3 linked regions of the Homo sapiens genome follow. The protein of the gene in region 3 interacts with the protein of the main gene of each other region in a pairwise test. Each region holds a gene or a part of one and is shown on either strand. Other genes may lie near its edges.

Region 1 (3,500 bases), on a different chromosome or scaffold from region 3:
CCTGTGGCCACCCCACCTGTTCCCAAGATGCCACCAAGCCGCCCTTACCTGTAGATCGGGGTTGTGTAGTAATTGCCCACCTTCTTCTTTTCTGCATTGTAACGAACACCTGGAAGGGGGTCAGGCGGGGGTGGTAATTTCATTGCCATCTGAATTTTGCAGATGGGTAAAATGAGGTACAAAGAGGCTCACTGTCACTTGCTGAGGGTTCCCCAACTAGGAGGAGTTAGAGACGGGATTGGAAGCCAGAGCCTGGCTTCCTAATCCCTCTGCAAAGGGGCTTCCATGGCCAGCCAGTCACTCGGGTGCCCGTCTCCTCCCTCATTCCTGATCAGGACCCTCCCACCCCCACCCCGGCGGCATCCAGCAGTTAGGGGGTCTGATGTTTGCAGGACTGAATGGAGGGTGGGCAGAGGCTCACCCATGCCGATGTGGTTCTTGCAGCCATCGCACCAGATGTTATATGGCATTTCGAATCTGCAAAGACAGACAGCATCTTACTTGCACTTGTCCACTTGGACACTCCCTGGGTCTCCACACCTGCGACTCTGGCCGCGGTTGTGATTTGAGGGGTGGGGTATTAGACTGCCCTGTTAACGGGAGTTGCTGCACTCACATTACACAGGAAATGGATATATGGAAGAAAAAGAATCACAACCATTGTAACTGAGCAGGAACTTCCTGCCTGCTAGAAAGCAGACTGACCAGGTCCAGGGACAGCCGCCTTTGGGTGCTGCTGCGACTTTTTTTTTTTGAGACAGAGTCTTGCTCTGTTCCCCATGCTAGAGTGCAGTGGTGCGATCCTGGCTCACTGCAACCTCTGCCTCCTGGGTTCAAGCAATTCTTATGCCTCAGCCTCCCAAGTAGCTGGGATTATAGGTGTGCGCCACCAATTCCGGCGAATTTTTTTTTTTTTTTTGAGATGGAGTCTCGCTCTGTTGCCAGGCTGCAGTACAGTGGCATGGTCTTGGCTCACTGCAACCTCCAGCTCCCTAGTTCAAGTGATTCTCCTGCCTCAGCCTCCCGAGGAGCTGGGATTACAGGTGTGAGCCACCGCACCCAGCCTAATTTTTTCTATTTTCAGTAGAGACAGGGTTTCACTGTGTTGGCCAGGCTGCTCTCGAACTCTTGGTCTCAAGTGATCCACCTGCCTCACCCTCCCAAAGTGCTGGGTTTACAGGCGTGACCCACTGTGCCCAACTACGATCACTGTCTTTTTTGAGAGTCCTATGTGATCAAGTCCAGGCTGGCCTGCTACAGGTTGAGATACAACACGGAGCAGAGCCCAGCTGTACAGGTCAAGTCCCTGCTAAACCAGCCAGTCCCCAGCCAGCCAACTCTGAAACACATGGGAGCCCAGCCCAGATCAGGCCAGCCTAGCCCAGCCCAGCCAAGCTCTTCCAAGCCCAGCAGAGATATTTTGCTGAGCTGCAGACATGTGAGCAATAATAAATGCTTATTGTTTTGTCACACGGCAATAACTGACTGATACGGTGACTTTCTGCTTTATGGAATGAAGACCCTGCAGCACTGGGCCAATGAGGGCACTGAACTCTCCTTGAGACTGAAGGAATGGGGCAGGACGGTGGGGTCCTCAGGTGATGCTGGGCCTTACCGGATGATGAGGATGCCCTGTGACAGCTTCCGAGCCCGCTCCCGAAGCGGGTGGCTGTTGTGGTATCGGTTGAGAGAGCCATGCTGTGTGGAGAGGATGAGGAGCGGATTAGTGCTGCTGAGCTGGAGGAGCTCACAATTTTCTGCCACCCCCACTGCTTTGGGACAAGTGTCTCACAGGTGGGAGAGGCCTTGATTCTTATGTCCTGCAGGACGGGTGTTCATAGCAATAGGGGGCATCCAGGTCTTACTGGAACATGTAGGCTTGGAACCAGGAACGTGAGTTTGAATAGTCCCTCTCTTATTTATTTATTTATTTTTTGAGATGGAGTTTTGCTCTTGTTGCCCAGGCTGGAGTGCAATGGCATGACCTTGGCTCACTGCAACCTCTGCCTCCCGGGTTCAAGTGATTCTCCTGCCTCAGGCTCCTAAGTAGCTGGGATTACAGGCGCCTGCCACCACGCCCGGCTATTTTTTTTGTATTTGTAGTAAAGACGGGGTTTCACCATGTCACCCAGGCTGGTCTCCAACTCCTGACCTCAGGTGATCCACTTGCCTCGGCCTCCCAAAGTGCTGGGATTCCGGGTGTGAGCTACTGCGCCCAGCCCTGTTCCCATTTATGAGCTGAAAGAGCCAGGGGACCCTGGGCGAGTGACCTCACGTTTTGCCTTCCCGAGCCTCTGTTTCCCTTGTCTGTCAACTACGTATAATGGTCATTATTACTTCCAGGTTTTATGGGGAAGATGAGGTGAGGTGACAAGACTGGCAAACATTCGCTGGGGACTTCATGTGCATCACCTTATTTTTTTTTTTTTTTTTTTGAGACAGAGTCTCGCTCTGTCACTAGGCTGGAGTGCAGTGGCGTGATCTCGGCTCACTGCAACCTCCGCCTTCCGGGTTCAAGCGATTCTCCTGTCTCAGTCTCCCAAGTAGCTGGGACTACAGGTGTGGGCCACTACGCCCAGCTAATTTTTGTATTTTTAGTAGAGATCAAGTTTCACCATGTTGGCCAGGATGGTCTTAAACTCTCGACCTGGTGATCCACCTGCCTTGGCCTCCCAAAGTGCTGGGATTAGAGGCGTGAGCCATGGCGCCGGCTTTTTTTTTTTTTTTTTTTGAGGCAGGGTCTGGCTCTGTAGCCCAGGCTGGGGTGCAGTGGTATGATTATGACTCACTGCAGTCTCCACCTCCTGGGCTCAAGCAATCCTCCCACCTCAGCCTCCTGAGTAGCTAGGATTTATCCCTCAATGATTCTGTGAGGTCAGCTCATTTTATTTCCCCCTTCTGACGTATGGAGAAACTTTGGCATAGAGAGGCTAAATCCTATACTCAGGACGAGGCAGCTGGGACACTTGGGCCCTTACTGAGCACCTACTGTGTGGGGACACAGCCACAATAAGATAGATGAACATCTCTGCCTTCAGGGAGAGAATGTTCTAGCGGGGGAGATGGACAAGACGCAAATAAATGAATAAGTGAGGGAGTTATAAGGGCTATGAGATTATATAAAGTGCTCAGCAATGCAACAGAGAACGAGACAGTGGTCAGGGAGGACCTCTGTGAGAAAAGCACTTAAGGAAGTGAGAGTATGGTGAAATGGAGGAAGAGATTCCAGGCAGAGGGGACAACCAGGACGCCACAGGTGCTGGAGCTGGGGAAGCCATGGGATCTGACCCTTCATCTGTGCGCTCTGCCTTATCCTGGGCCCCTGCTGTAAACACACTATACTCTAGTATAGTGTGGACATGGAGTTACAGGTCCCTGAGGAGAGCCACAGTTATCACCCAAAAGTGAAGACAGCCTCGAGACTCAGGTGACATGCAGAAGACAAAAAGACCTTGGGGGCCACCCATCCTTCCGCAGCAGTGGCTCTAACCCCAAGAGGG
Region 2 (3,500 bases), on a different chromosome or scaffold from region 3:
CAACAAATATCACCTGAACACCCATAAGCACTGAATGCCTCAGACCATTACCAGTTTAAGAACTTAGCCCTTTTTGTAACATCAGAGAGCAGGTAAAATGATTATGAATTAAACCCTAAAAGAGACTTTCTAGATTATAGGCACTGAAAAAAAAAAAAAAGAACAAAGGCTGGGCGTGGTAGCTCACACTTGTAATCCCAACACTTTGGAAGGCTGAAGCAGGAGAATCACTTGAGCCCAGGAGTTCGAGACCAGCCTGGGCAACACAGCCAGACACTGTCTCTACAAAAAATAAAAATAAAAATAAGTTAGCTGGGCATGGTGATGCATGCCTATAGTTCCAGCTACTCAGGAGGCTGGGGTGGAAGAACTGCCTGAGCCCAGGAGTTCAAGGTTGCAGTGAGCCATGATTGTGCCACTGCACTCCAGAATGGGCCACAGAACAAGACTTTGTCTCAAAAAACAAAAATATATATACACATATATATAGTGACAAGATAATCCCAGGGTACCAGTTTAAAAAGTATTTATGAAACTTAAAAGATTCCAAATGTTGCCCTGGGTTAGGAATCAAAGAAATAATTAAATCCAGAAGCAAACAAAAATCCTTACTTCAGGCGGGCACAGTGGCTCATGCCTGTAATCCCAGCACTTTGGGAAGCAGAGGCCGGCAGATCACCTGAGGTCAGTAGTTCAACGCCAGCCTGGCCAACACGGGGAAACCCCGTCTCTACTAAAAATATAAAAATTAGCCGGGCACGGTGGCAGGCGCCTGTAGTCCCAGCTACTCGGGAGGCTGAGGCAGGATGATGGCGTGAACCTGGGAGGCGGAACCTGCAGTGAGCCGAGAGTGCGCCACTGCACTCCAGCCTGGGCAACAGAGTGAAACTCTGTCTCAAAAAAAAAAAAATCCTTACTTCAGTCAATATTCCTGCTCATTATCCAAATCTTCCCCCATCTTAATTTAAATGTTGACATCTTACTTCCTTTTATCACATTTTTACTACCCAGCTTTTGATATAGTTAATAAAAATGATTAAATTAAAAACCTAGCAAAATAATTAAGCCTTTCTGCATATACTCAAAGTATGTAAAGTCCTATTAAATCTTTAGGCCGGGTGTGTTGGCTCACACCTGTAATCCCAGCACTTTAGGAGGCTGCGGCTCACTTGAGGTCAAGAGTTCCAGACCAGCCTGGCCAACGTGGCGAAACCCTATCTCTACTAAAAATATAAAAATTGGCTGCGCGTGGCGGCATGCGCCTGTAGTCCCAGCTACTCAAAGAGGCTGAGGCAGGAGAATCACTTGAACCCAGGAGGTAGAGGCTGCAGTCAGCCGAGATCGCACCACTGCACTCCAGCCTGGCAACAGAGCGAGACTTCATCTCAAAAAAAAAAAAATCACAAAACCCAAAACATTCAAGATAGACCCAATGAGTCTCAAGAAGAGGCAGGACCTTACCTATTTCCTTCTCACTTTCAAAAGCTGTCATGGGTTGAATATCCTCATTTACTTCATGTTCTTCAAAGACCATTTCTGGCTCAGTTATATACTTAGCAGTAGGAAAAGATGCGATTTTCTTTCCCTTATAAGAACCGACATGTGTTCGAACTTCATTCCTTCTGCTTGGAAATATCTCGATGTATCTATGTCAAAGCAAAAGTAAACAGGCACAAATGGTGCAAAGTAACTTTATACTGAACTCATTTAAAATAAACATGTATACATTATATTTCCAACAGCTTATGAAACACAGGTGTCAAAAGATAACAGGTAGGGAAAACTAATAATGCATACAGATAGTAGCCCATGAAAATATACAACAGAGTAGGTCACTGATTTAAGTTTTTGCATCAAGGTAACACTTTTTCTTCACATACATTTTAATAATATTTTCTACTCTGTTTTGCTTCATGAGAACAACTATGCTTAAGTTAATTGTGTATACAGAAAAAATTAATCTCATAAGGGTTTTTTAAATTGCTGGTTAACAATCTCTTGAAGCTCTGAAATTCAATTCTGTGCAAATTAATCATATCTGTATAAGATATTAAAAGTCACAGTAAAAGAAGAGCTAACTTCCCCAGAACTTCACTAAAAGGCTGAGAATTCAAGAACTAAGTATCAATTATGACTTGCTATCACAGGAGGGGACTATCTATTAAACCCAAGCTTCTGGAACAATTTTTTTTTTTGAAACTTGGGTTTCTTGCTGTCACCCAAGATGGTGTGCAGTGGTGTGAACATGGCTCACTGCAGCCTCAACCTCCTAGGCTCAAGTGATCCTCCTGCCTCAGCCTCCTGAGTAGCTGGGGACTACTGCCACCTGCCACCACACACTGCTAATTTTTTTTTTTTTTTTTTGAAGCAGAGTTTTGCTTTTGTTGCCCAGGCTGGAGTGCAATGGCACGATCTTGGCTCACTGCAACCTCTGCCTCCTGGGTTCAAGCAGTTCTCCTGCCTCAGCCTCCTGAGTAGCTGGAATTACAGGCGCCCGCCACCACGCCCAGCTGATTTTTTGTATTTTTAGTAGAGACAGGGTTTCACTATGTTGGCCAGGCTGGTCTCAAACTCCAGACCTCAGGTGATTCACCTGCCTCAGCCTCCCAAAGTGCTGGGATTATAGGCATGAGCCACCATGCCCAGCCCACACACTGCTAATTTTTTTATTTTTTATTTTTGTAGACATGGGTTCTTGCCATGTTGCCCAAGTTGCTCTTGAACTCCTGGGCTCAAGTGATCCTCCCACTTCGGCCTCCCAAAGTGCTGGGATTATAGGCATGGGCCACCGCGCCCAGCACAGTTTCCTTTTTCTTAACATGGCCTTCTAAACTAAGAGTTATAAAACTAGCTTGTGTTTACAAATCTATAAAGATTAGATGAGCACTACTTCTTTAAAAAAAAAACCTTTGAGCCTGGACAACAAAGTGAGACACCATCTCTACAAAAGTTTTTTTTTGTTTTTTTTTTTAATTAGCCAGGAGACCAGGTACAGTGGCTCACACCTATAATCCCAGTACTTTGGGAGGCTGAGGCAGGTGGATCACTTGAGCTCAGGAGTGTGAGACCAGCTTGGGCAACATGCAAAACCCCGTCTCTACAAAAATACAAAAATTAGCTGGGTGTGGTGGCATGTATCTGTAGTCCCAGCTACTTGGGAGGCTGAAGTGGGAGGATTGCTTGAGCCCAGGAGGCCACAACTGCAGTGAGCTGTATCACACAACTGCACTCCAGCGAGGGTAACAGAATAAGACTCTGTCTAAAATTAGCCAGGCATGGTGATGCATGCCTGTGGTACCAGCTACAAGGAAAGCTGAGATGGCAGGACTGCTTGAGCCCAGAAGGTCAAGGCTGAAATGAGCAGTGTTTGTGGCACTGCACTTCAGCCTGGGTGACAGAGCAAGATCCTGTCTCAAAAAACCAAAAAACCTTTGAACCACTTCTATCAGTAGATCCTGAAACACTGGCTTTGGAATGGCTGTTTTGTTTACTTCAAAGGA
Region 3 (3,500 bases):
TTTCCCCAGTGTGGATTCTCTGATGCTGAATAAGGTGTGAGCTCTGGCTGAAGGCCTTCCCACACTCATTACATTCATAGGGCTTTTCCCCAGTGTGGATTCTCTGATGTTGAATAAGGTCTGAAGTTCGATTAAAGCTCTTGCTACATTCATCACACTTATGGGGTCTGTCTCCCACGGGGAGTCTCTGATGTGAGATAAGGTTGGAATTCACAGTGAAGCTGTTCCCAAAATCATTATATTTCTCGCTTCTCTCTCCCCTGGGGGTTAGCTTCTCCTCAACTGTCACTTGACCAAAATCTGGCATTTTCCTGTTCAGTCTTTCTCCAGGGGAGTTCCCCAGCGGCCTTTTCAGACTGACTTCTCGTTCATAGGCTTCTTTAAACTTGAGACCCTGAGAAATATCCTTTTGAAATCTTCCCAGTAGGACCCCATGTGATCTTGTGTCTTCAGAAATTTCTTGATCATTTTCAGTCCTGGTCTCACGATCTGACACAATAAAAAATGCAAATGTCACTTGTTCCTTAGGGAAGAAAGAGTGAAAATCACAGGACAGGATCATTGTAACGAATACTTACAGTGCCAAAAGCACATGCCTACAAAGAGGCCTGCCCCACATGTGTGCGGCTAAGGCAAAATGAGACAGCCGGGCTAAGGAGACAGGGAAGGGGCAGGGCAGAGCAAAACCAAGGAGAACAGAGCTGGAAGTGGAAAGAAAGCTGAGTGTGTGTGGAGGGGAGGACGGATCAGGCAGAGAGGCAGGGAACCAACTTTAGAAGAGGAAGGTCATATTGCTTAATGAAGTGACAAAGCCTTTAGAGAGGTCAGGGCAGTGGATATAACTGGGGACACAGTGACTGCAAGAAGGGAGAGCAAGTACAGGACAGTTGGTGAGAAAAGGGGGGAAGGGTGAGGAGAGACAGCAGCAGCGCGGGAACAAGCAAGGGGGAGGATGCTAGTGGCTGCCATGGCCCCATAAGAAGAGCAATCATGGCTGTCGTCACGCCACAAATGCCAAGCCCATGGAAACGGCAAGACAACTGAGTCCGCCTCTGGGCCCTATGCATAAAAGGCTATGCTCGCACGTAAGGCTATGCAAAGAATCTCAGTGTCTGACGTCTCTGTTTTCACTCCTTTTGAGTTTCTAAAGCCAACTCTGGGCACAGAGGATAAATGTAAAGGGTCCAGAGAGTTTGCGTTTTTAGCTTAATTGATATTTTAAAAAGTAAAGACAGGGTAATGTGTGTTAGGGACGGGAACGGCTGTTTCTCCTTCACCTGAAGAGGTACCTCTTAGGACCTCTCTGCTCTCAGTTCCTTTGAAACCCAGGCCCCTTGGCTCTTCCTCTCATTCTAGCAGAGAGATGGTGGCAGGATTCAGAAATGGGAATTCTGCTCATGGGGAGAGACATGGGACAAGGAGGTTTATCTGCTCACCCTGAGAGTCCCAGAGCTCAATTCCAGACCCCAGATCTGCCGGGGACAGAAGGGAAATGTACAGGAAGGTCTCAAATGAGAGTTAGGAAGACGTCCTGGCTCTGCTCAGGAAAATGCCCACTAAGAGTGGGGTGAGAGACAAGGAATTCTACATCCTAAAAGTTGAGAAACTAATTTATTAATCTTTCTTTTTTTGTTTTTGTTTTTGAGACAAGGTCTCACTCTATCGCCCAGGATGGAGTGCAGTGGCGTGTTCTTGGCTAACTGCAACCTCCACCTCCCAGGTTCAAGCAATTCTCCTGCCTCAGCCTCCCAAGTAGCTGGGATTACAGGCACATGCCACCACCCCCAGCTAATTTTTTTTGTATTTTTAGTAGAGATGGCGTTTCAACATGTTGGCCAGGCTGGTCTCAAACTCCTGACCTCAGTATCTGCCCGCCTCAGTCTCCCAAAGTGCTGGGATTACAGGCATGAGCCACCGCGCCTGGCCTAATTTCTTAACCTTTCTAAGTTTCTACAGAGCAGCAGGGGCACTAGGTCCTGAACAAAGCAACAGGTCCCTAGAAGTTAGAGAAGGGGAGCAGAGAAGCAGAGAAGGAGAGGACAGAGACGTGGGCAAAGAGCAGCACCTCATGTGTTCAGGGATAATCCTTCGGAAAAGTCTCTGGATTATATATTAAGTCCTGAGAATAACACGGAAAAAGTATCAGATTTGGCCAGGCGCGGTGGCTCATGCCTGTAATCTCAGCACTTTGGGAGGCCGAGGCAGGTGGATCACCTGAGGTCAGGAGTTCGAGACCAGCCTGACCAACATGGAAAAACTCCGTCTCTACTAAAAATACAAAATTAGCTGGGTGTGGTGACGCATGCCTATCATCACAGCTACTCAGGAGGCTGTGGCAGGAGAATTGCTTGAACGCAGGACGCAGAGGTTGCGGTGAGCCGAGACCACGCTATTGCACTCCAGCCTGGCAACAAGAGTGAAACTCCATCTCAAAAAAAAAAGGTACCAGATTTGGAGTTAAAGACTGGGCCCCAAGTTTTGCCACTCATCAGCCCAACTGATGACCATGCATGCACAAGACATTGAGACCGCTACTCTCACCTCCACTTTATTTACTTATTTATTTTTTGAGACAGGGTCTGTGTCACCCAGGCTGGACTGCAGTAATGCCATCTCGGCTCACTGCAACCTCGGCTTCCCAGGCTCAAGTGATCCTCCAACCTCAGCCTCCCAAGTAGCTGGGACTACAGGCATGTGCCACCATGCCTGGCTAATTTTTTGGATATTTGGTAGAGACAGGGTCTCGCCATGTTGCCCAAGCTGGTCTTGAACTCTTGACCTCAAGTGATCCTCCTGCCTCAGCTTCTCAGAGTGTTGGGATTACAGGTGTGAGCCACCTCGCCTGGACTACTTTCACTTTCCTTACCTGTAAAATGAGGAATAATACTAGCTGCCTCAATTAATGTGTTACTGTGAAGATTAAATGAAAGAATATATATGAGAACTCTTTATAAGTTGCAGACTGCTGTATAAATGAGTTAAGATTATTGTTCTTACAGTTTCCTAAGACTAAGTCAATCCTTACCTAGGCCAGGTGCAGTGGCTCATGCCTATAATCCCAGCACTTTGGGAGGCCAAGACGGGTGGATCACTTGAGGTCAGGAGTTTGAGACCAGCCTGGCCAACATGGTGAAACCCCGTCTCTACTAAAACAAAAAAAAACAAAACAAATACAAAAATTAGCCTGGTGTGGTGGTGCGTGCCTGTAGTCCCAGCTACTTGGGAGGCAGAGGTGAGAACCTGGGAACACTTGAATCTGGGAGATGGATGTTGCACTGAGCAAAGATTGTGCCATTGCACCTCAAAAAAAAAATCTGCTGAAACAGCTCTTTTCAGTGACTAGATTGTTACTAGCAAACGAAGAAGCAAAGAAACACCAGCGAGTTTTGTTGACAAGGCATAACTCCTTACCCAGTGAGAACACATTCCCGTAATTCTCCAGCATCACATCTCTATAGAGGTCCCTCTGAGCAGGTTCCAAACGCTTCCACTCCTTCCGG

What was found. Proteins that work in one complex are often made in the same cells at the same time.
Region 1: the proteins of ZNF3 (region 3) and YJU2B interact in binary tests that used the Homo sapiens proteins (3 or more experiments, as listed by UniProt).
Region 2: the proteins of ZNF3 (region 3) and GRSF1 interact in a two-hybrid assay, tested with the Homo sapiens proteins (one study listed by BioGRID).

What each region holds. Positions count from the first base shown.
Region 1 is NC_000019.10:13,754,395-13,757,894, reverse strand, and holds part of YJU2B (probable splicing factor YJU2B), read right to left. Parts: intron 1,699-3,500; coding exon 1,616-1,698; intron 478-1,615; coding exon 422-477; intron 110-421; coding exon 49-109; intron 1-48. UniProt on the Homo sapiens protein: May be involved in mRNA splicing.
Region 2 is NC_000004.12:70,826,391-70,829,890, forward strand, and holds part of GRSF1 (G-rich sequence factor 1), read right to left. Parts: intron 1,647-3,500; coding exon 1,462-1,646; intron 1-1,461. UniProt on the Homo sapiens protein: Regulator of post-transcriptional mitochondrial gene expression, required for assembly of the mitochondrial ribosome and for recruitment of mRNA and lncRNA. Binds RNAs containing the 14 base G-rich element.
Region 3 is NC_000007.14:100,071,724-100,075,223, forward strand, and holds part of ZNF3 (zinc finger protein 3), read right to left. Parts: coding exon 3,412-3,500; intron 490-3,411; coding exon 1-489. UniProt on the Homo sapiens protein: Involved in cell differentiation and/or proliferation.